Linked DNA regions of Homo sapiens: region 1 is linked to region 2. Evidence: fine-mapped QTL for protein levels in blood plasma. A gene starts in region 2. The other region holds a variant in brackets. All regions are shown on one strand. Distances are between the middles of the regions.

What was found. PIP is the posterior inclusion probability: the model's chance that the variant is causal. The UK Biobank Pharma Proteomics Project read protein levels with antibody pairs (Olink). The fine-mapping took linkage between variants from a reference panel, not from the people measured, so its PIPs are less certain.
Region 1: its variant is fine-mapped to the plasma level of the ACP5 protein (UK Biobank, PIP above 0.99).

The regions. Positions count from the first base shown.
Region 1 is chr19:11,620,172-11,630,757 of GRCh38, reverse strand. It overlaps the pseudogene VN2R12P. Among named protein-coding and RNA genes, the nearest start is that of ZNF627, 28 kb to the right of the region's middle. RefSeq lists an enhancer at 6,620-7,120. The variant A/G (reference allele first, on the strand shown) is at 6,060.
Region 2 is chr19:11,567,775-11,577,868 of GRCh38, reverse strand. ACP5 (acid phosphatase 5, tartrate resistant) reads left to right here and starts at 224. Exons shown (of 5, transcript NM_001611.5): 1 at 224-276; 2 at 552-812; 3 at 1,026-1,153; 4 at 1,281-1,626; 5 at 2,617-3,209. The coding sequence starts at 552. The coding sequence ends at 2,859. LOC124904638 (a long non-coding RNA gene) reads right to left here and starts at 2,620. Exons shown (of 2, transcript XR_007067140.1): 1 at 2,516-2,620. RefSeq lists enhancers at 1-44, 1-125, 126-738, 9,447-9,536 and a silencer at 9,947-9,996.

The DNA.
Region 1 (10,586 bases), 53 kb before region 2:
TCTCCTTTCCTCCAGCAGCAGGAATCTCTCCCCATAGCCACCACAGGTAGAAAGGTGCTGGGTCACACCTGAAGCCAGTACAGCTCTAAGTCTTACCCAAGGCCCATACAAGTACAGCCTGGCTACCCCTGCTGATCACTCAGGGCCCAGGGGTTCAGAAGGTGATGAATTCTGCCAGGACTGGGTCCTTCTTTTCAAGGCAGTAGGTTCCCTTCTGGCCCAGGGTGTATCTAGAAATGTCCAGGAGCTAGGGCCTGGAATAGAGGCCTCACGCCTCTGCCTGGTGCCCTATTATACTGTTGCTGAGCTTGCATCCAAGTTGCAATATAAGTCCTCTTTACTCTCCCCTTTCTTCTCAAGTAGAAGGAAGTAGTCTCTCCCTGAGCTGCTGGCTGTACTGCCTGGGGTCAGGAGAGTGGTGGCACAAGTATTCCCTTTGCCACCCCAGCTAGTGTCTCACTAGGTCATGTGCACACCAAGTCCGCTGGGTCCAAGCCCACCCAACACCAAGACTTACACAGGAATTGCAGTCCTTGTGATCCTGACTACCTTTCAAGTTTCTTCAGGACACCAGAACATTTTAGCCCACGGTGACAGGGCTTGCCAGAACTCAGGTTCTGGCAATTGGGATGGACAATTCAACTCTGGCTAAGGCTGATCTAAACGCTCCCTCCATGGGCACTGGCTGAGTTCTGCCCCATATTGCTTTCTGCTAATGACAGGGCAGCACTGAGTTCCAATGCAAAGTGCCACAATCACTGCGCTCTCCCTCTCCCAAGCTTACAGATTCACTCTCTATGCCATTTGGCCTCTGCGAGAGGATGGGAAAGTGGTGGCATAGGCAATTCAAGGCTGCTTTCCCACCCTCTTCCGTGCCTCTTTACTTAATATAAGACCAGGCACTGTGATTGCACAGCTGATGTTTGGTTCTTCTTCTTCTTCTCCTCTTTCTTCTCCTTTCTTCTTCTTCTTCTTCTCCTTCTCCGTCTCCTTCTTCTTCTCTTTTTTGATACAGAGTCTCACTCTGTCACCCAGGCTGGAGTGCAGTGGCACGATCTCGGCTCACTGCAACCTCCACCTCCCGGGTTCAAGCGATCCTCCTGCCTCAGCCTCCTGAGTAGCTGGGATTACAGGTGCACACCACCATGCCCAGCTAATTTTGTATTTTTTACTAGAGACGGTGTTTCACCATATTGGCCAAGCTGGTCTTGAACTCCTGACCTCGTGATTTGCCTGCCTCAGCCTCCCAAACTGCTGGGATTACCGGTGTGAGCCACTGCGCCCAGCCTAAGTTACTTTTTGTGTGGATAGCTGTTCAATTTGGTGTTCTTGTTGGGGGAACAATCACTGGAGGGTTCTATTTGGCCATCTTGCTCCTCCTGCTTCTGTATCACTTTTGACCATGGTTTTACCTATATGGTAGGTAAAAGATCCAGCCAGGTGTGATGGCTCACGCCTGTAATCCCAGCACTTTGGGAGGCTGAGGCGGGAGGATCACCTGAGGTCAGGAGTTCGAGACCAGCCTCAATATGGAGAAACCCCGTCTCTACTAAAAATACAAAATTAGCCGGGCATGGTGGTGCATGCCTGTAATCCCAGCTACTCGGGAGGCTGAGGCAGGAAAATTGCTTGAACCCAGGAGGCAGAGACTGCAGTCAGCCAAGATCACGCCATTGTACTCCAACCTGGGCAACAAGAGTGAAACTCTGTCTCAAAAAAAAAAAAAAAAAAAAGAAAGAAACTCAGGGAGACAGACAGTAAGTGAAAGGAAAGAATAAAATAACCTCTGCTCACATTTGAAATTATTAAGTTCTTTTCAATAAAATTTCATGCTGTAGTAAATGAACTGGATGTAATTTTTTGGTACAGGAATGAATTCACAAATTTTTCCTTGAAAATAAAAATGTTTTCAACCTAAGGTCATTTATCCTAAAAATTGTTCTTTTTGACTTTGCTTTATTAAAAACTGCAAATATAAAACATCTCAGGTGTGGTTACTCATGCCTGTAATCCTAGCACTATGGGGGGCCTAGATGGGATGATCGCTTAATGCCAGGAGTTCCAGACCGGCCTGGTCAACATACTAAGGCTCCATCTCTATTTTTTTTTTTTTAACGTATATCTAAAAAGGCAATTTTCACATCTCAAGAACGGAAGCACTTCTGAGGCTGGGCACAGTGGCTCATACCTGTAATCCCAGCACTTTGGGAGGCCACAGCAGGCGGATCACATGGGGTCTGGAATTTGAGACCAGCCTGGCCAACATGGTGAAACCTCATCTCTACCAAAAATTCAAAAATTAGTCAGGAGTGGTGGCACACGCCTATAATTCCAGCTACTCAGGAGACTGAGGCACGAGAATCGCTTGAATCTGGTAGGCGGAGGTTGCAGTGAGCCGAAATCACGCCACTGCACTCCAGCCTGGGTGACAGAGCGAGACTGTTAAAAAAAAAAAAGCCGGGCGCGGTGGCTCAAGCATGTAAGTAATCCCAGCACTTTGGGAGGCCGAGGGGGGCAGATCACGAGGTCTGGAGATCGAGACCATCCTGGCTAACACGGTGAAACCCCGTCTCTACTAAAAATACAAAAAATTAGCCGGGCGTGGTGGCGGGCGCCTGTAGTCCCAGCTACTCGGGATGCTGAGGCAGGAGAATGGCGTGAACCCGGGAGGCGGAGCTTGCAGTAAGCGGATATCGCGTCACTGCACTCCAGCCTGGGCGACAGAGCAAGACTCCGTCTCAAAAAAAAAAAAAAAAAGAAAAGAAAAGAAAAAAAAGGCTGGGCGCGGTGGCTCATGCCTGTAATCCCAGCGCTTTGGGAAGCTGAGGCGAGCGGATCACGAGGTCAAGAGATGGAGATCATCCTGGCCAACACGGTGAAACCCGTCTCTACTAAAACTACAAAAATTAGCTGCGCCTGGTGGCGCATGCCTGTAATCCCAGCTACTTGAGAGGCTGTGGCAGGAGAATCGTTTGAACCCAGGAGGCGGAGGTTGCAGTGAGCTGAGATCACACCACTGCACTCCAGCCTGGGCAACAAGAGCGAAACTCCGTCTCAAAAAAAAAATAAAATAAAATAAATTGAAGCATTTCTCATAACCAGAATACCATAGTCACACCTACTAATTTCCTAATATTAGCTGACAGCATGACACTGGAATCTCATAAATTATATAAACAATTTAAAAAATATTTTGTAGAGACACAGTCTGACTATATTGCCCGGCTGGTCTTGAAGTCTTGGCCTCAAGGGATTCTGCTGCCTTGGCCTTCCATTGCATATGGAAACGCAAAGTGGAAATGTTATCCATTTAACATAAAAGACAACATAACCTTAAAAATATGTGTGACATTCCCTATCCATAGCTCTGTCTGCAGCCAGAATGAAGAATGAGTCCTAGATTGCCAAAATAACTTTTAATTCTAAATTGTTGAAACTTACAAACTGCAGCGTTGCTTTTCTTTTTTCTTTTCTTTTCTTTCTTTCTTTCTTTTTTTTTTTTTTTTTTTTTTTTTTTTTTGGAGACAGAATTTCGCTTTTGCCCAGGCTGGAGTGCAATGGCGTGATCACAGCTCACCGCAACCTCCACCTCCAGAGTTCAAGCGATTCTCCTGTCTCAGCCTCCCAAGTAGCGGGGATTACAGGTATGCGCAACCACACCTGGCTAATTTTGTATTTTTAGTAGAGGCGGGGTTTCTCCATGATGGTCAGTGCAGGGAGCCAAAGGCCGCTGGGACACGACAAACTCAGCATTCCGCAGGAGTCTATATGATCAAACAGCAAACTGTTTATCATGAATGCAGGTTGTGGGCAAACTCACACTGCCCTGCCACCAAAAGGTTTGCTGAGGGACATCACTCCCTGGCACCGGGCTCCTTGAAGTTATCTACTGAGAAAATTAGTGCCTATTGTCCAAAGGATGCAGTCTCACAAGCCTGCTGTGAACCAAACAGAACCAAACGGCCAACTGACAATTACCCGACAATCACTCCCTCTTTTCTCACTATCCCTTTGGCCTAATAAATACGGAGGACTGTGTAAAGCTCGGGGCCCTTGTCCACTAGAGGCAAGGTGCTGCCCCCATCCCTTCTTCCAAATATACTCTTTTGTCTCTTGTCTTTTATTCCCACGTTCGCCCCCCTTTGTTCAGTCCCCCTAGGTCCGTGCAGGTTACACAGTGGCACCCCAAACAGCGACAGGATCGGAAGCTCTATAAGTGGCACTCGAACAGGCGGCAGTCCAAACACGGGACTATGAGGACGTGAACGAAGAAGGTCTGCTGGAGTAGAGGAACTGAAATTGACAAGACGCACGGGGACTCCGGGATGAGTCTGCCGATAGCGTATGTAAGGTCAGTGCCCTAAAGAAGTACTGGGGGCAGTGCTTTAAAGAAGTACTGGGAAGGGGAAGTTTTCTGAATCAGGTTAACAAGGGGAAGAATTTGTCTACTGAAGAAAAACATTATGTGCACTTGCTTAAGTTTCTGTTGAGACAGTCTGGAGCTCAGGTTAATTCGCAGGCACTAACTAACCTCCTGCAGAAGCCACAAATGGTTATTCACGCATCACCCATGGTTTCCACAGGCAGGCACTCTTGATGCGGAAAATTGGGACAGAGCAGGAGAAGGATTAAAACAGGCTCATCAAAAAGGTTTTAAAGTTGATTCTTCAGTTTTCTCCACTTGGAGTTTAGTTCATACTGTACTTCTGCCATTAGCTCCTTATTATTCTGCGGGACAGCAGGCTGAGTCTAAAAATCTGAAAGAATCTGTTGTCCCACCCACAGCGCCAACTGAAAATAAAAAACAGGTGAGGGAGGATAAAAATTGGCCTATACCGCCTCCTCCAATCGCAGAAACATCTGTACTGCCTCCTTCAGTAGCAGAAATAGAGACCCCAAAACAAACAACTTTATGCTCTGCTGCCATAGCTGGAGAGCCCTTAGGACCTTGCACTTTTCCTATTTCCGTAAGGCCCGATTCAAATAATCCACAGCAGTTTATTCATGAACACACCCCACTAGAATTTAAGTTGTTGAAGGAATTAAAAACTAGTGTGGTCAATAATGGAGTACATAAGCCCATGGTTCCCGGAAGAAGGAACGCTAGGCTTAGAACTCTGGGAATGAGTGGGGAGAAATCTTGAACAACATCAGGTGCAAAGGCATCAGGTCCCAGTAAAATCTTTAACGTTATGGGCTTTAATTAGAGCAGTCCTGGCTCAGTTTACACACAGAAGAGCCTAAAAAGAGGAAGGAGGAGAAAACGTCACCTGCCTTATCACCTTCTCTTCCCTCAGCCCCAATATCACTGGGCCAAAAATAACAAAGAGGAAACAGAGGTCTTACCTAAGCCTCCTCCTCCAATAGATAGGAAAAAGGACAGAGGATACGCTACAGCTATCAGTCCCTGTCTTGAGCAGGCAGCATTAGAAGGAGAGCTCTTAACCTGCTCAGTAATGCAAAATCGGCAAGGCAAGCAGGTGTATGTCTGTAAAAAGATAAGAAAGGCCGGGCGAGGTGGCTCATGCCTGTAATCCCAGCACTTTGGGAGGCTGAGGCGGGCAGATCACCTGAGGTGGGCAGATCACCTGAGGTCGGGAGTTCGAAACCAGCCTGAGCAACATGGAGAAACCCTGTCTCTACTAAAAATACAAAATTAGCCGGGCGTGGTGGCAAGTGCCTGTAATCCCAGCTACTCGGGAGGCTGAGGCAGGAGAATCGCTTGAACTTGGAAGGCGGAGGTTGCGGTGAGCCGAGATCGCGCCATTGCACTCCAGCCTGGGCAACAAGAGCAAAAACTCCGTCTCAAAAAAAAAGAAAGAAAAAAGGCATTAGAAGCCGAAACCGCGCGACCAAGCAAGCGGTGGGCGGAATAGAAGGTTCAGCAGCAGAAAAGCTGGCAGCGACCAAGCCCACAAGGTCCGCCCAGGCTGGCAGCATGCCCCACCCCCGGCAAAGGAGGGAGGGAGCGGCGCAGACACAGGCAAAACCTGAGCAAGTACAATGCGGCCGCCGCCAAGGACCTGCACCGCAGCCCTCTGGCTCTGTGAGCAGCCCAT[A/G]GCAAAAGTTCATGTGTTACGTACGTCCCAGACTATGATTCTCTGCTAAGATTTAAGTAAAATGTAAGAATTTGAAAAACCTCTTTTCTAATAATGGCCACTGTTATCTCTCTCCTACCCCTAAGGTAGCTTTCCAAATTCAATTTAAGTAAAACAGTAACCTCTGAAGGGAAAGAGATTACAGAGGGCCCACGAATTCATTAATGAGTAATTAAAAGCTAGGCATGTAAAACCACACATTACCCTTTAAAGGAGAACTTTAAACCTAATTAAATGATATTTGTCAAATTAGAAGGTAAAAATGTTGTGTCCTTCTCAGAAAGTGAAGAAAAGTTGTAAGTGTAGTGAAAACTTATGCATGAATGACTGTCTTACCCACTGATTACAGATAGTGTGATTTGTACTTGCTAAAAGAGTCCTAAATTGAGTTCCCCAGCCAGTGAGTCACTGTTTTCAAGACTGTTTGCCAGATTAAAGTCCATAAACTTGGTCAGCCCAAAAACTCAATTACAAGATTTAAGCTATTCCGCCCGTGGTTTTAAGCACATGGTTAAAGTATATCATTTAAGTCTCTGCTTCTAGAGACGCGTTCAGATTTTCTTTTTAAACTTATTACTATTTCAGCTAGCAATCTTAATGATTAATGCAGTCCAAATGCTAAGTTATGACCCTCATATCATCAGGATTCGTTTAAGTAAAAGGCAATTCGAAGCGGTATTTCACTCCCCCATACCTAAGGCTTTAACACGGTTTACTGATGGGTCTGGTAAACATGGAAAAGCAGCAGGCTAGTAGAGACCACATAATTCAATCACTCGATCTGAGTTTACTAGCACTCAGAGAGCTAAGGTTACTCTGTTTATTTATTTATTTATTTATTTTTGAGACGGAGGCTCGCTCTGTCGCTCAGTCTGGAGTGCAGTGGTGCGATCTCCACTCACTGCAAGCTCCGCCTCCCGGGTTCACGCCATTCTCCTGCCTCAGCCTCCCGAGTAGCTGGGACTACAGGCACCTGCCACCGCGCCCGGCTAATTTTTTGTATTTTTAGTAGAGACGGGGTTTCGCTGTGTTAGCCAGGATGGTCTGGATCTCCTGACCTCGTGATCCGCTCGCCTCGGCCTCCCAAAGTGCTGGGATTACAGGCGTGGGCCACCGCGCCCGTCCTATCAGGTTACTCTGTTTATTTATTAAAGAACTTTTACAACTTTAAGCTTGCTCTGGACTTTGCAGCCTTATGTTGCAAATATAGCCATCAATTTATGGGGTCGAGACTTACAGCATGGGATAGGAGACTTACAAATGAAAACTTTGATAATCCAGGATTTAAAATGTTGAAGAACATGGGATATCAGAGTGAAAAAGGTTTAGGGAAATTTCTACAATGAAATCCTAACCCGATATCAGTAACTGGAAAAACAGATAGAAAAGGGCTAGGACACAAGGATTTCTGACGGGGGGGTCATTGATATTTGATATTTCTCCTTTGCCCACTGCCTTACCATTAGAATGGCTCAGTGACAAACCTGTGTGGGTGGATCAATGGCCCCTATCACAAAAGAAGCTAGATGAACTTCATCTGTTGGTAAAAGAGCAATTGAACACAGGACATATAGAAAAGTCAGTTAGCAGGCCGGGCGCGGTGGCTCACGCCTGTAATCCCAGCACTTTGGGAGGCCCAAGCGGGAGGATCACGAGGTCAGGAGATCGAGACCATCCTGGCTAACACAGTGAAACCCCGTCTCCACTAAAAATACAAAAAAAATAGCTGGGCATGGTTGCAGGCGCCTGTAGTCCCAGCTACTTGGGAGGCTGAGGCAGGAGAATGGCATGAACCCGGGAGACAGAGCTTTACTCCAGCGTGGGCGACAGAGCGAGACTGTCTCAAAAAAAAAAAGAAAAGTCAGTTAGCCCCTGGAATTCTCCAGTATTTGTGATTCCAAAAAGGTCCCAAAACAATAACGACCTCTGGGGTTTCAGCTCAACATTCAGAGCTAACTGCAGTCATTCAGGTTTTACAGCTCACAGCTTCAGATCCTATCAACATTGTCTGTGATTCAGCTTATGTTGTAAATGTAGCCAGTCGCGTAGAAACTGCTACAGTTAAAAGTACACTAGACCCAGAACTGCTTAATTTATTTCACTTATTCTCAAATGCTGCATGCTACATGCCAAACAGGTGAGACAGCTGGTCATGTATGGTGACATCATCTGTCATCATTTGCTCATATGGGAATACCTAAACAATTAAAAACTAACAATGGACCCACTTATACTGGCCATGCTTTTCAAAATTTCTTACAGCTTTGGGCTATAACCCATAAAATAGAAATTCCTTATAATCCTAGAGGACAAGGCATTATAGAGCAGGCACATCAAACATTACAACACATGTTGAAAAAACAAAAAGGGGGTATAGGAGGCCACTTACCACCTCAATCAGAACTTTTTATTATTTTTATTTACTTTAAATTTTTTTGGCTCCTGGTCCGGATGGTAAGACTCCAGCAGAAAGACATTGACAAGTGTTAGAGGAAAAGAGGAAAGTTTATCTGAAAGTGTTATGGAAATCCCTGGAAGAAGGACAATGGAAAAGTCCGGTGGATTTACTGACATGGGGAAGAGAGCATGCTTGTGTTTCTACAGGAGATGGGCACACCGTTTGGGTGCCCTCAAGGTGTGTGCGACCATGAACGGGAGACGGGAGGAACCCAGGGTGGCCAACCATGGGCCCGGTCCCTCCAGTACGAGCCATGAGCCAGCTGAGCCTGGGTGCAAAGAGAGAGAGAAGGCCTAACAGAGTCACAACACAGTTCTAATGCTATGTTTTCTGTAAAATCAGATGGACCGCCAATCGGACAATGAGAGCTGCTCAGCCTGGCCTTACATTCTTTCAATTAATACATAAACAAAAAGGGGGATATGCAGGGAGCCGAAGGCCCGTGGGACGTGACCAACTCAGCATTCCGCAGGAGTCTATATGGGATCAAACAGCAAACTGTTTATCATGAATGCAGGATGTGGGCAAACTCACTGCCCTGCCACCAAAAGGTTTGCTGAGGGACATCACTCCCTGGCACTGGGCTCCTTGAAGTTATCTACTGAGAAAATTAGTGCCTATTGTCCAAAGGATGCAGTCTCACAAGCCTGGTGTGAACCAAATGGCCAACTGACAATTACCCAACAATCACCCCCCGCTTTTCTCGCTCTTTTGTCTAATAAATACAGAGGGCTGTGTAAAGCTCGGGGCCCTTGTCCACTAGAGGCAAGGTGCCCCCCAACCCCTTCTTCCAAATATACTCTTTTGTCTCTTGTCTTTTATTCCTGTGTTTGCTCCCGTTTGTTCAGTCCAATAGGTCCAAGGCGGGTCAGGCTGGTCTCGGACTCCTGACCTCAGGTGATCTGCCCACCTCAGCCTCCCAAAGTGCTGGGATTAGAGGCGTGAGCCACTGCGCCCAGCCGGCATTGCTTTTCTAATCAGATGAAGAACAGTGTATGCTGTCAACAGAGCATCAGGACTCAAACAGAAAGCCACATCACTGCCTTCCAAAAGTGGTGGCCCTCTGGTTTATGAACACTCTTTGGGCCTGTGCTACAATGTCCTCTCTGGGGTGTTTGTGAAGCATCAAGATACTCCCACAGTCAAGGCCAATAATCAGGCTCAGCTGTGTCCTGTTCATCTCCCTCACCCTGTGCTTCCAGTGTCCCCTACCTTCACTGGTCATCCCCACACAGCACCTGCATCCCAACACAGCACCTGCATCCCGGGCAAAATCACATTTGGAGTCGTGTTGATGGTGGGGTTTCTACTCTGTGGCCCACACTATCACTGTGGGTGTTGCCTTCAAGGGAGAAGGACTCAGTGGTTGGATTCAGTAGCACCTAACTCTGTATTGCCCTCTCTAATCCAAATGACTGTAGAATCTGACAGGCAATGACTCCACCCTTCACTCATGTGAATACATTATCTGGGGCTGAATATGTCATCTCCACATACAGTCATGGTTTGGTTGCTGATTGCTACTCTATCCTGTGATACCTGGGCTTTTGACACTGAGAAGTTTCAACAGGGATTTTCTCAACAAGAGCTTGCTGGACACCTTCAACGAAGTGATTGGATTGTTCCGTGGAAGTGTACAGACAAAAAGCTGACTTTTGCATGTTGCTTTTTACTCTGTAGTGCTGGCATAAGAGGCCTATTGATAAATTAGAAGCAAAAGCATATATGCCAGGAACAGTGGTTCATACCTGTAATCCATTCCAGCACTTTAGGAGGCCGATGCGGCCAGATCACCTGAAGTCAGGAGTTTGAGATCAGCCTGGCCAACATGGTGAAACCCTGTCTGTACTAAAAATACGAAACAAAAATTAGCCGGGTGTGATGGTGGGCACCTGTAATCCCAACTACTCAGGAGGCTGAGGCAGGACAATCACTTGAACCGGGAAGCAGAGGTTGCAGTGAGTTGAGATTGCACCACTGCACTCCAGCCTGGGTGATAAGAGTGAAACTCTTGTCTAAAAAAACAAAAA
Region 2 (10,094 bases):
CTGCAGGTCCACCCGGAGGCTGTGTGGGCCGAGGCTGCTGCACACGTGTGCCCAGATCCTCCCACCCCCACCCCAATCCCGTGTCCTGCTCCAGGGAAGTCCAGGGCTCACATGACCCAAGGGGAGGGCTCCCGGGACAGCCCTCGGAGAAACTGCATCATCCTCACTAATGATCCACTTCCTCCTCAGGGAATAAAGGCTCAGGGACCGGCAGTTCTACTCTAGAGCCCACCAGCCTCTCAGAGCCTCCGGTGACTGGCCTGTGTCTCCCCCTGGGTGAGTGCTGGGCAGGCTAGGTGGAAGGAGGGTGAAATGGGCCTGCAGGGCCATCTTGGTACAGCTCGCCCTCTCACAGACCGCGCCCCCCTTCCCTAAGCCAGCTTGTGCAGCCTTGTGCAGCTTGTGTGTCCTGAGAATTAGGGCACCAAGGGGTTCCCGCAGGGGCAGCCTGCAGCAAGCAGTCTCCCTCTATCTCAGGGCAGGCGGGGGTCTCAAGGCCTCCCTGCCCTTGTCACAGCCCGGGCCACCTATGCTTGTCTCTCTTCTCCCAGATGGACATGTGGACGGCGCTGCTCATCCTGCAAGCCTTGTTGCTACCCTCCCTGGCTGATGGTGCCACCCCTGCCCTGCGCTTTGTAGCCGTGGGTGACTGGGGAGGGGTCCCCAATGCCCCATTCCACACGGCCCGGGAAATGGCCAATGCCAAGGAGATCGCTCGGACTGTGCAGATCCTGGGTGCAGACTTCATCCTGTCTCTAGGGGACAATTTTTACTTCACTGGTGTGCAAGACATCAATGACAAGAGGTTCCAGGTCTGTGCCCAACAGAGTGGGGCAGGAGGTGGGGGCGGGCAGTGGGGAGAAGCCGCCTTACCTAGTGACCTTCCTTTGGTGAGGGCAGAGGGAAGGTGATGGGGCACCTTTGGGCGCCGGGAGCATTCAGTGTCTCCCTTATCCTGACTTGGTGGGAGGATCGGCATAGCCACTGACCCCAGGGAAGAGGCCTGCCCTATCTGTTTGCTACAGGAGACCTTTGAGGACGTATTCTCTGACCGCTCCCTTCGCAAAGTGCCCTGGTACGTGCTAGCCGGAAACCATGACCACCTTGGCAATGTCTCTGCCCAGATTGCATACTCTAAGATCTCCAAGCGCTGGTGAGCCACCCTCAGCCCTGCCTTCCGAGATCCTCACATAGCAGGGACACAGGGGCCCTGTGGCTTGAGCTGACCCTGGGACTTCTGCGCCCAAGATGTGCACCCACGACCTCTATCCCCTCCACAGGAACTTCCCCAGCCCTTTCTACCGCCTGCACTTCAAGATCCCACAGACCAATGTGTCTGTGGCCATTTTTATGCTGGACACAGTGACACTATGTGGCAACTCAGATGACTTCCTCAGCCAGCAGCCTGAGAGGCCCCGAGACGTGAAGCTGGCCCGCACACAGCTGTCCTGGCTCAAGAAACAGCTGGCGGCGGCCAGGGAGGACTACGTGCTGGTGGCTGGCCACTACCCCGTGTGGTCCATAGCCGAGCACGGGCCTACCCACTGCCTGGTCAAGCAGCTACGGCCACTGCTGGCCACATACGGGGTCACTGCCTACCTGTGCGGCCACGATCACAATCTGCAGGTGAGGGCCCTGTGGGTGGGGTGGGAGCTGGGTGAGGGGGGTCCCCATCCCAGCTGATGTCCACATGGCTGGGGTCCTCCTGCTGTTTGAGGGTCTCCTGTGGCCTTCAGAATGTCTAGACTGTCCCTCAAATCTTGCTGTCTAACCAGGAAAACACTCCAAAGCCAGAATAATATCTTCGAATTGCCAATTTCTTTCTTTCTTTCTTTTTTAAGCTCTTTTTTTTTTTTTTTTTTGGAGACAAGGTTTCATTGTTTTTCACCCAGGCTGGAGTGCAGTGGTGCAATCGGGGCTTACTGCAGCTTCAATCTCCCGGGCTCAGGTGAACCTCCCACTTCAGCCTCCAGAGTAGCTGACACTACAGGCATGGGCCACCACATGCAGCTAATTTTTGCTTTTTTTTTTTTTTTTGAGAGGGAGTGCAGTGGCACGATCTCAACTCACTGCAACCTCCGCCTCCTGGGTTCAAGCAATTCTCCTGTCTCAGCCTCCCAAGTAGCTGGGATTACAAGCATGGGCCACCAAACCTTGCTAATTTTTATATTTTAGTAGAGACGGGGTTTCACCATGTTGGCCAGGCTGATCTCGAACTTCTGACCTCAAGTGATCTGCCCGCCTCGGCCTCCCAAAGTGCTGGGATTATAGGCATGAGCCACTGCACCTGGCCCTTGCGCATTTTTTTTGTAGAGGCAAGGTCTCACTATGTTGCCCAGGCTGGTCTCAAATTCCTGGGCTCAAGCAATCCACCCCCTCAGCCTCCCAAAGTGCTGGGATTACAGGCATGAGCCACCACACCTGGCCACCAATTTCTTACTAAGTGCTCTACCTATGAAATAGGATTAATACACTCCTAAAAGTCAGGAAATTGAAGCCAGGAGGGGTTACATACCTCAAGGTGACTCTGTGGTTAGGGCCAGATCGAGCCCTGGACCTTAGGCAGGGCTCTGCTCAAAGCTGGGTCTCCACTGACCCCTTGTCCTCCATCCTCAGTACCTGCAAGATGAGAATGGCGTGGGCTACGTGCTGAGTGGGGCTGGGAATTTCATGGACCCCTCAAAGCGGCACCAGCGCAAGGTCCCCAACGGCTATCTGCGCTTCCACTATGGGACTGAAGACTCACTGGGTGGCTTTGCCTATGTGGAGATCAGCTCCAAAGAGATGACTGTCACTTACATCGAGGCCTCGGGCAAGTCCCTCTTTAAGACCAGGCTGCCGAGGCGAGCCAGGCCCTGAACTCCCATGACTGCCCAGCTCTGAGGCCCGATCTCCACTGTTGGGTGGGTGGGCCCTGCCGGGACCCTGCTCACAGGCAGGCTTTTCCTCCAACCTGTGGCGCTGCAGCAGGGCAGGAAGGGGAAACACAGCTGATGAACTGTGGTGCCACATGACCCTTGTGGCACAGATGCCCACGTATGTGAAACACACATGGACATGTGTCCCAGCCACAGTGTTATGCTCTGTGGCTGGCTCACCTTTGCTGAGTTCCGGGGTGCAATGGGGGAGGGAGGGAGGGAAAGCTTCCTCCTAAATCAAGCATCTTTCTGTTACTGATGTTCAATAAAAGAATAGTTGCCAAGGCTGAACCAGTGCCACTGGTGTGTTATGTTCTCCTGGTTAGAGTGGCTGGGCTCCCCTGAGCTGCTGTTCCTTGCCTCCATCTCTTACCCCATCCATGACCAAGTTGCCTTATCCATGGATGTGATTATAAAACCCGGCCAGGCACGGTGGCTCACACCTGTAATCCCAGCACTTTGGGAGGCCGAGGTGGGCGGATCACGAGGTCAGGAGATCGAGACCATCCTGACTAACATGGTGAAACCCCGTCTCTACTAAAACTACAAAAAAATTAGCCAGGCGTGGCGGCGGGTGCCTGTAGTCCCAGCTACTTGGGAGGCTGAGGCAGGAGAATAGTGTGAACCCAGGAGGCGGAGCTTGCAGTGAGCCAAGATAGCGCCACTGCACTCCTGCCTGGGTGAAAGAGCGAGACTCCATCTCAAAAAAATAAAAAATAAAAAAAAAATAAAATCCAAGCAGAGGCCAGGCTCAGTGGTTCACATCTGTAATCCCAGCACTTTGGGAGGCCAAAGCGGGTGGATTATTTGAGGTCAGGAGTTCAAGATCAGCCTGGCCAGCATAGTGAAACCCCATGTCCACTAAAAATACAAAAAGTTAGTCAGGCTTGCTGGCGAGTGCCTGTAATCCCAGCTACTTGGGAGTCTGAGGCAGGAGAATCACTTGCATCTGGGAGGTGGAGGCTGCAGTGAGTCAAGATTGCGCCACTGCACTCCAGCCTGGGCAACAAGAGTTAAACTCTGCCTGAAAAAAAAAAATTGGCCAGTTGTGGTGGCAGGAGCCTATGGTCCTAGCTACTCAGGAGGCTGAGGCAGGAGAATTGCTTGAACCCAGGAGGCGGAGGTTGCAATGAGCTGAGATTGTGCCACTGTACTCCAGCCTGGGTGACAGAGCAAGAATCTGTCTCAAAAAAAATAAGTAAATAAAATAGGCCAGGCACGATGGCTCACACCTGTAATGCCAGCACTTTGCAAGGCCTAGGTGGTCGGATCACTTGAGGTCAGAAGTTCAAGACCAGCCTGGCCATCATGGTGAAACCCCATCTCTACTAAAAATACAAAACTTATCTAGGCGTGGTGACACATGACTGTAATCCCAGCTACTTGGGAGGCTGAGGCGAGAGAATCACTTGAGCCTAGGGGGTTTGCGGGTAAAGGGGGTGGAGAGGTGAGGGCGGAGATTGCAGTGAGCTGAGATTGTGCCACTGCACTCCAGCCTGGGTGATAGAGCAAGACTCTGTCTCAAAAAAAAAATTAATTCAATAAAATCCAAGCAGAAAGAAGGGTACAACATAAAGCAAGTCTTCCTCCACCCCAGGGGCAACTAATATTAATCATTTTCTTTCTCTATATAGTCTATGCCTCCATAATCAAAACATTCCCTTTATTATTTTCTTTTTTTTTTCTTTTTTTTTTTTTTTGAGATGGAGTCTCACTCTGTCACCAGGCTGGAGTGCAGTGGCGTGAGCTCGGCTCGCTGAAACCTCCAACTCCCAGATTCAAGCAATTCTCCTGGCTCAGCCTCCTGAGTAGCTGGGATTATAGGCACGCGCCACCACGCCCAGCTAATTTTTTTTTTTTTTTTTTTTTTTTTTGAGATGGAGTCTTGCTCTGTCGCCCAGGCTGGAGTGCAGCGGCGTGATCTCGGCTCACTGCAAGCTCTGCCTCCCGGGTTCACACCATTCTCCTGCCTCAGCCTCCCAAGTAGCTGGGATTACAGGCGTCTGCCACCACACCCGGCTCGTTTTTTGTATTTTTAAATAGAGATGGGGTTTCATCGTGTTAGCCAGGATGGTCTCAATCTCCTGACCTCGTGATCCGCCTGCCTCAGCCTCCCAAAGTGCTGGGATTACAGGAGTGAGCCACCGCGCCTGGCAATTTTTGTATTTTTAGTAGAGATGGGGTTTCACCATGTTGGCCAGGATGGTCCCAATCTCCTGACCTCATGACCTGCCCGCCTCAGCCTCCCAAAGTGTTGGGATTACAGGCGTGAGCCGCCGTGCCCGGCCTATTATTTCTTTAGGGAGAGGGGTCTTGCTATATTGTCCAGGCTGGAGTGCAGTGGTGCAATCATAGCTCCCTGCAGCCTCAAACTCCTGGGCTCAAGAAATCCTCCCACCCTAGCCTCTCAAGTAGCTAGGACTACAGGCACGCACCACCACTCCTAACTAATTTTTAGATTTTTTTTTTTTGTAGAGATGGGAGTCTTGTTCTGTTGCCCAAACCGGTCTTGTACTCCTGGGCTCAAGCAATCCTCCTGCCTCAGCCTCCGAAAGTGTTGGGATTACAGGCATGAGCTATTGCTTCCAGACTGTTTTTCAGAGACAGAGTTTTGCTATGTTGCCCAGGCTGGTCTTGAGCTCCTGGGCTCAAGTGATCCATCTCAGCCTCCCGAGTAGATGAGATTACAGGGGCATGCCACTGCAAACACATTCCCATTTTTTACACCAAAAGCAACACAATATACACATAGTTCTGCACACATTCCCGTTACTGCACTCCACTTTTTTTTTTTTCTTTTTTGAGATGGAGTCTCACTCTGTCACCCAGGCTGGAGTACATGGGTGTAATGTTGGCTCACTGCAACCTCCATCTCCTGGGTTCAACCGATTAAGCAATTCTCCTGCCTCAGCCTCCCAGGTAGCTGGGATTACAGGCCCCCACCACCATGCCTGGCTAATTTTGTATTTTTAGTAGAGACGGCATTTCACCATGTTGGTCAGGCTGGTCTTGAACTCCTGACCTCAGGTGATTCACCTGCCTTGGCCTCCCAAAGTGCTGGGATTACAGGCATGAGCCACTGTGCCCAGTCCTGAATTGTTTCTTGCATAAGATCCAAGAATGCTCTCTTGGGGTCTGGATCGAGACCCCTTTCCTGTAACACTTCGAACAATTTTGCAATCCTCAATGTCATAACAAATGACCTTGTCTACGCATTACCTATGGGGCAGACATGTTTGCAGGATTCCCAGGAACAAGGAAAAAGATCGCACTTCTTTTTGACAGCCACGAAGCTTCTGCCTTATGTCACTGGCTCCTTGCTAGTGCCCCTTGCAGGATTTTATTGGTTTTGGGGGTTGTTTTGAGAGACAGAATCTTGCTCTGTCACTCAGACTAGAGTGCAATGGCAGGATCATAGCTCACTGCAGCCTCAAATTCACAGGGTCAGGTGATCCTCCTGCCTCAACCTCCCAAAGTGCTGGGATTGCAGGCGTGAGCCAAAGTGCCAAAGTGCTCAGCCTCATTGAGGTTTTTTTTTTGAGATGGAGTCTCACTCCATCAGCCAGGCTGGAGTGCAGTGGCACGATCTTGGCTCACTGCAACCTCCGCCTCCCGGGTTCAAGCAATTCTCTGCCTCAGCCTCCCAAGTAGCTGGGACTACAAGCACACGCCACCATGCCCAGCTAATTTTTGTATTTCTAGTAGAGATGGGGTTTCGCCATCTTTGCCAAGCTGGTCTTGAACTCCTGACCTCATGATCCACCCACCTCGGCCTCTCAAAGTGCTGGGATTACAGGCGTGAGCCACCGCACCCAGCCGTGGTCTTTTTAAATCTTTCCTTCTAGGCCAGGCATGGTGGCTCACACCTGTAATCCCAACACTTTCAGAGGCCGAGGCAGGTGGATCACCTGAGGTCAGGAGTTTGAGACCAGCCTGACCAATATAGTGAAACCCCGTCTCTACTAAAAATACAAAAATTAGCTGGGCATGGTGGCGTGTGCTTGTAGTCCCAGCTACTTGGGAGGCTGAGGCAGAGAATTGCTTGAACCCGGGAGGCGGAGGTTGCAGTGAGCCGATATGACGCCACTGCACTCCAGACTGAGCAACAGAGCGAGACTCTTTCTCAAAATACATAAATAAATAAATAATTGTTTCCCTCTTACCAACAAGGCTGCAGTGGTGGTCCCTGGACCAATGCTGTGAAAGTAATGTGTAAGAAAACTTCTAGAAGGAGAATTATCTCAGGGCTGGGCACAGTGGCTCACACCTGTAATCCCAGCACTTTGAGAGGCTGAGGCAGGCAGATCACTTGAGGTCAGGAGTTGGAGACCAGCCTGGCCAACATGGTGAAACCCCATCCCTACTAAAAATACAAAAAATTAGCTGGGTATGGTGGCACGTGCCTGTAATCCCAGCTACTGAGGCTGATGCAGGAGAATCGCTTGAACCCAGGAGGCAGAGGTTGCAGTGAGCCGAGATCACACCACTGCAATCCAGCCTGGGAAACAGAATGAGACTCCGTTTCAGGGGAAAAAAAAAAAAAAAAAAATCTCAGGGCCTGTTTTTCTTATACTGAAAGCAGAGTGCTAGACCTGATGTGACAGTTGCAGGGGAGCCCAGTTCCCCTCTGAGGGAGAGTTAAGTAACACCCACCCCCAGGCAACCCAGGCCATTAGCGCTAGGCAAGGCACAGGAACCCCTCCTTTGGCCCACCCTCAACCGCCACTTGCAACTGCTACACGGCAGGGACCCAGTTGTTTGGCTCCAGCTGCCTGCCTAGCGGAGTGAAATGAATCTGGACAAAATGTAAACAGGGCTGAGTGCAGTGGCTCATGCCTGTAATCCCAGCACTTTGGTAGGTAGGGGCAGGCAGATCACTTGAGGACAGGAGTTCAAGACCAGCCTGGCCAATATGGCAAAAACCCACCTCTACTAAAAAATACAAAAGAATGAGTCAGGCCTGGTGATGCATGCCTATAATCCCAGCTATTTGGGAGGCTGAGGCATGAGAATCGTTCTTGTCTGGGAAGTGGAGGCTGCAGTGAGCTGTGATCACGCCACTGCACTCCAGTTTGGGAGACTATCTCAAAAAAAAAAAAAAGTAACTGAGGTTACTTCTGGGGAGAGGCACTTGGTGAAATTGTCACCTTTCATTTGTTATTTTACTTATTTTTTTTTTTTTGAGAAGAAGTTTCCCTCTTGCTGTCCAGGCTGGAGTGCAGTGACGTGATCTCAGCTCACAGCAACCTCTGCCTCCCAGATTCAAGCGATTCTCCTGCCTCAGCCTCCTGAGTAGCTGGGATTACAGGCATGCGCCACCACGCCTGGTTAATTTTGTATTTTTTAGTAGAGACAGGGTTTCTCCATGTTGGTCAGGCTGATCTTGAATTCCCGACCTCAGGTGATCCACCCGCCTAGGCCTCCCAAAGTGCTGAGATTACAGGCATGAGCTACTGCTCCGGCTTATTTGTTACTTTGCGCGCGCGCGTGTGTGTGTGTGTGTGTGTGTGTGTGTGTGTGTGTATCTTGGTATAATTTGCTACTTTATAGATGTCAATACTGTTGAATTTGTTACAAGGTGTATGTGTTACTGTTACAATTTTTTGGTTTTTTTTGAAACAGTGTCTCACTCTGTTGCCCAGGCTGGAGTGCAATGGTGTAATCATAGCTCACTGCAGTTTCCACCTCCTGAGCTCAAGGGATCCTCCTGCCTCTGCCTCCTGAGTGGCTGGGACCACAGCTTCACCCCACCACTCTTGGTTAATTTTGTGTGTGTGTGTTTTGTAGAGATGGGGTCTTGCTATGTTGCCTAGGCTGGTCTCAAACTCCTGACCTCAAGTGATTCTTCCTCCTTAGCCTCCCAAAATGCAGGATTACAGGTGTGAGCCATCATGTCTGGCCAACTGTTATAATTAAGCAGTGATCTTTCCAAAATGCAATCCTGGCCAGGGGTGGTGGCTCACACCTGTAATCCCAACACTTTGGGAGGCTGAGGCGGGCAGATCACTTGAGATCAGGAGTTCGAGACCAGCCTGATCAACATGGCAAAACGCTGTCTCCATTAAAAATACAAAAATTAGCTGGCATTGTGGCGGGCGCCTGTAATTCCAGCTACTCAGGAGGCTGAGACAGGAGAATCACTTGAACCCAGGAGGTGGAGGTTGCAGTGGGCCGAGGTCGTACCACTGCACTCCAGCCTGGGCAACAGAGCAAGACTCTGTCTCAAGCAAACAAACAAATCCCCAAAATGTAATCCTGAGTTTGTTCCAGCTGCCATTTACCGTCACTTCTGATCCTGGCCCATGAGGCAGGGGCCAGAATCATCCTTGCTTCTCAGAGGCTATTACAGAAGCTCAGACGTGTTTTTGTGGGTTTTTATTTTTTAATTTTTTTTGGTACAATATTTATCTTAGATTGGACGGCTTAACCACTGTGACCAAGGTAATTTCTAGGAAGTGGCAGTCCCTCAATCTTAACCACAACAGTCTAGGGAGGTCACAGCCGCGCTCTTCTCACTGACTCAGAGGCACCAGACAGGCAGGAGTCTGAATCAGAGGTCACCATCATAGCCCAAGGACCCCGTTCTCATGGCCCAGAGCACAGAAAGAAGAAGTGACACATCCAATGTCACACGAAGACTGAGTGGCAGGGGAGGGGGGATTGTAACTCAGGCTCCCTCCTCTACATCAGCCAGACACTTCTACCGAGCACCAAGGACCAAAGCTCTGTGCCAGGCAGCTGGGGACCCAAGGACACTAGGAGGAATAAATCAGGGTGGGCGCTGGCCCTCAGGGAGCTTCTGTCTTGCTGAGGAGACAACACCAGCCAGCACTCAGCCATCTTAATTAATTATTTTATTTTTTTCTTTACTTTTCTGTTTTTTAGACAGGGTCTCACTCTGTTGCCCAGGCTGTCAGGCTGGAGTACAGTAGTGTGATCACAGCTCACTGCAACTTCCGTCTCCGGGGCTCAAGCAATCCTCCCTCCCACCTAAGCCTCCTGAACAGCTGGGACTACAAGCACACACCACCACACCTGGCTAATTTTTTTTTTTTTTTTTTTTTTTTTTTTTTTTGAGACGGAGTCTCGCTCTGTCACCCAGGCTGGAGTACAGTGGCGCAGCCTCGGCTCACTGCAAGCTCCGCCTCCCGGGTTCACGCCATTCTCCTGCCTCAG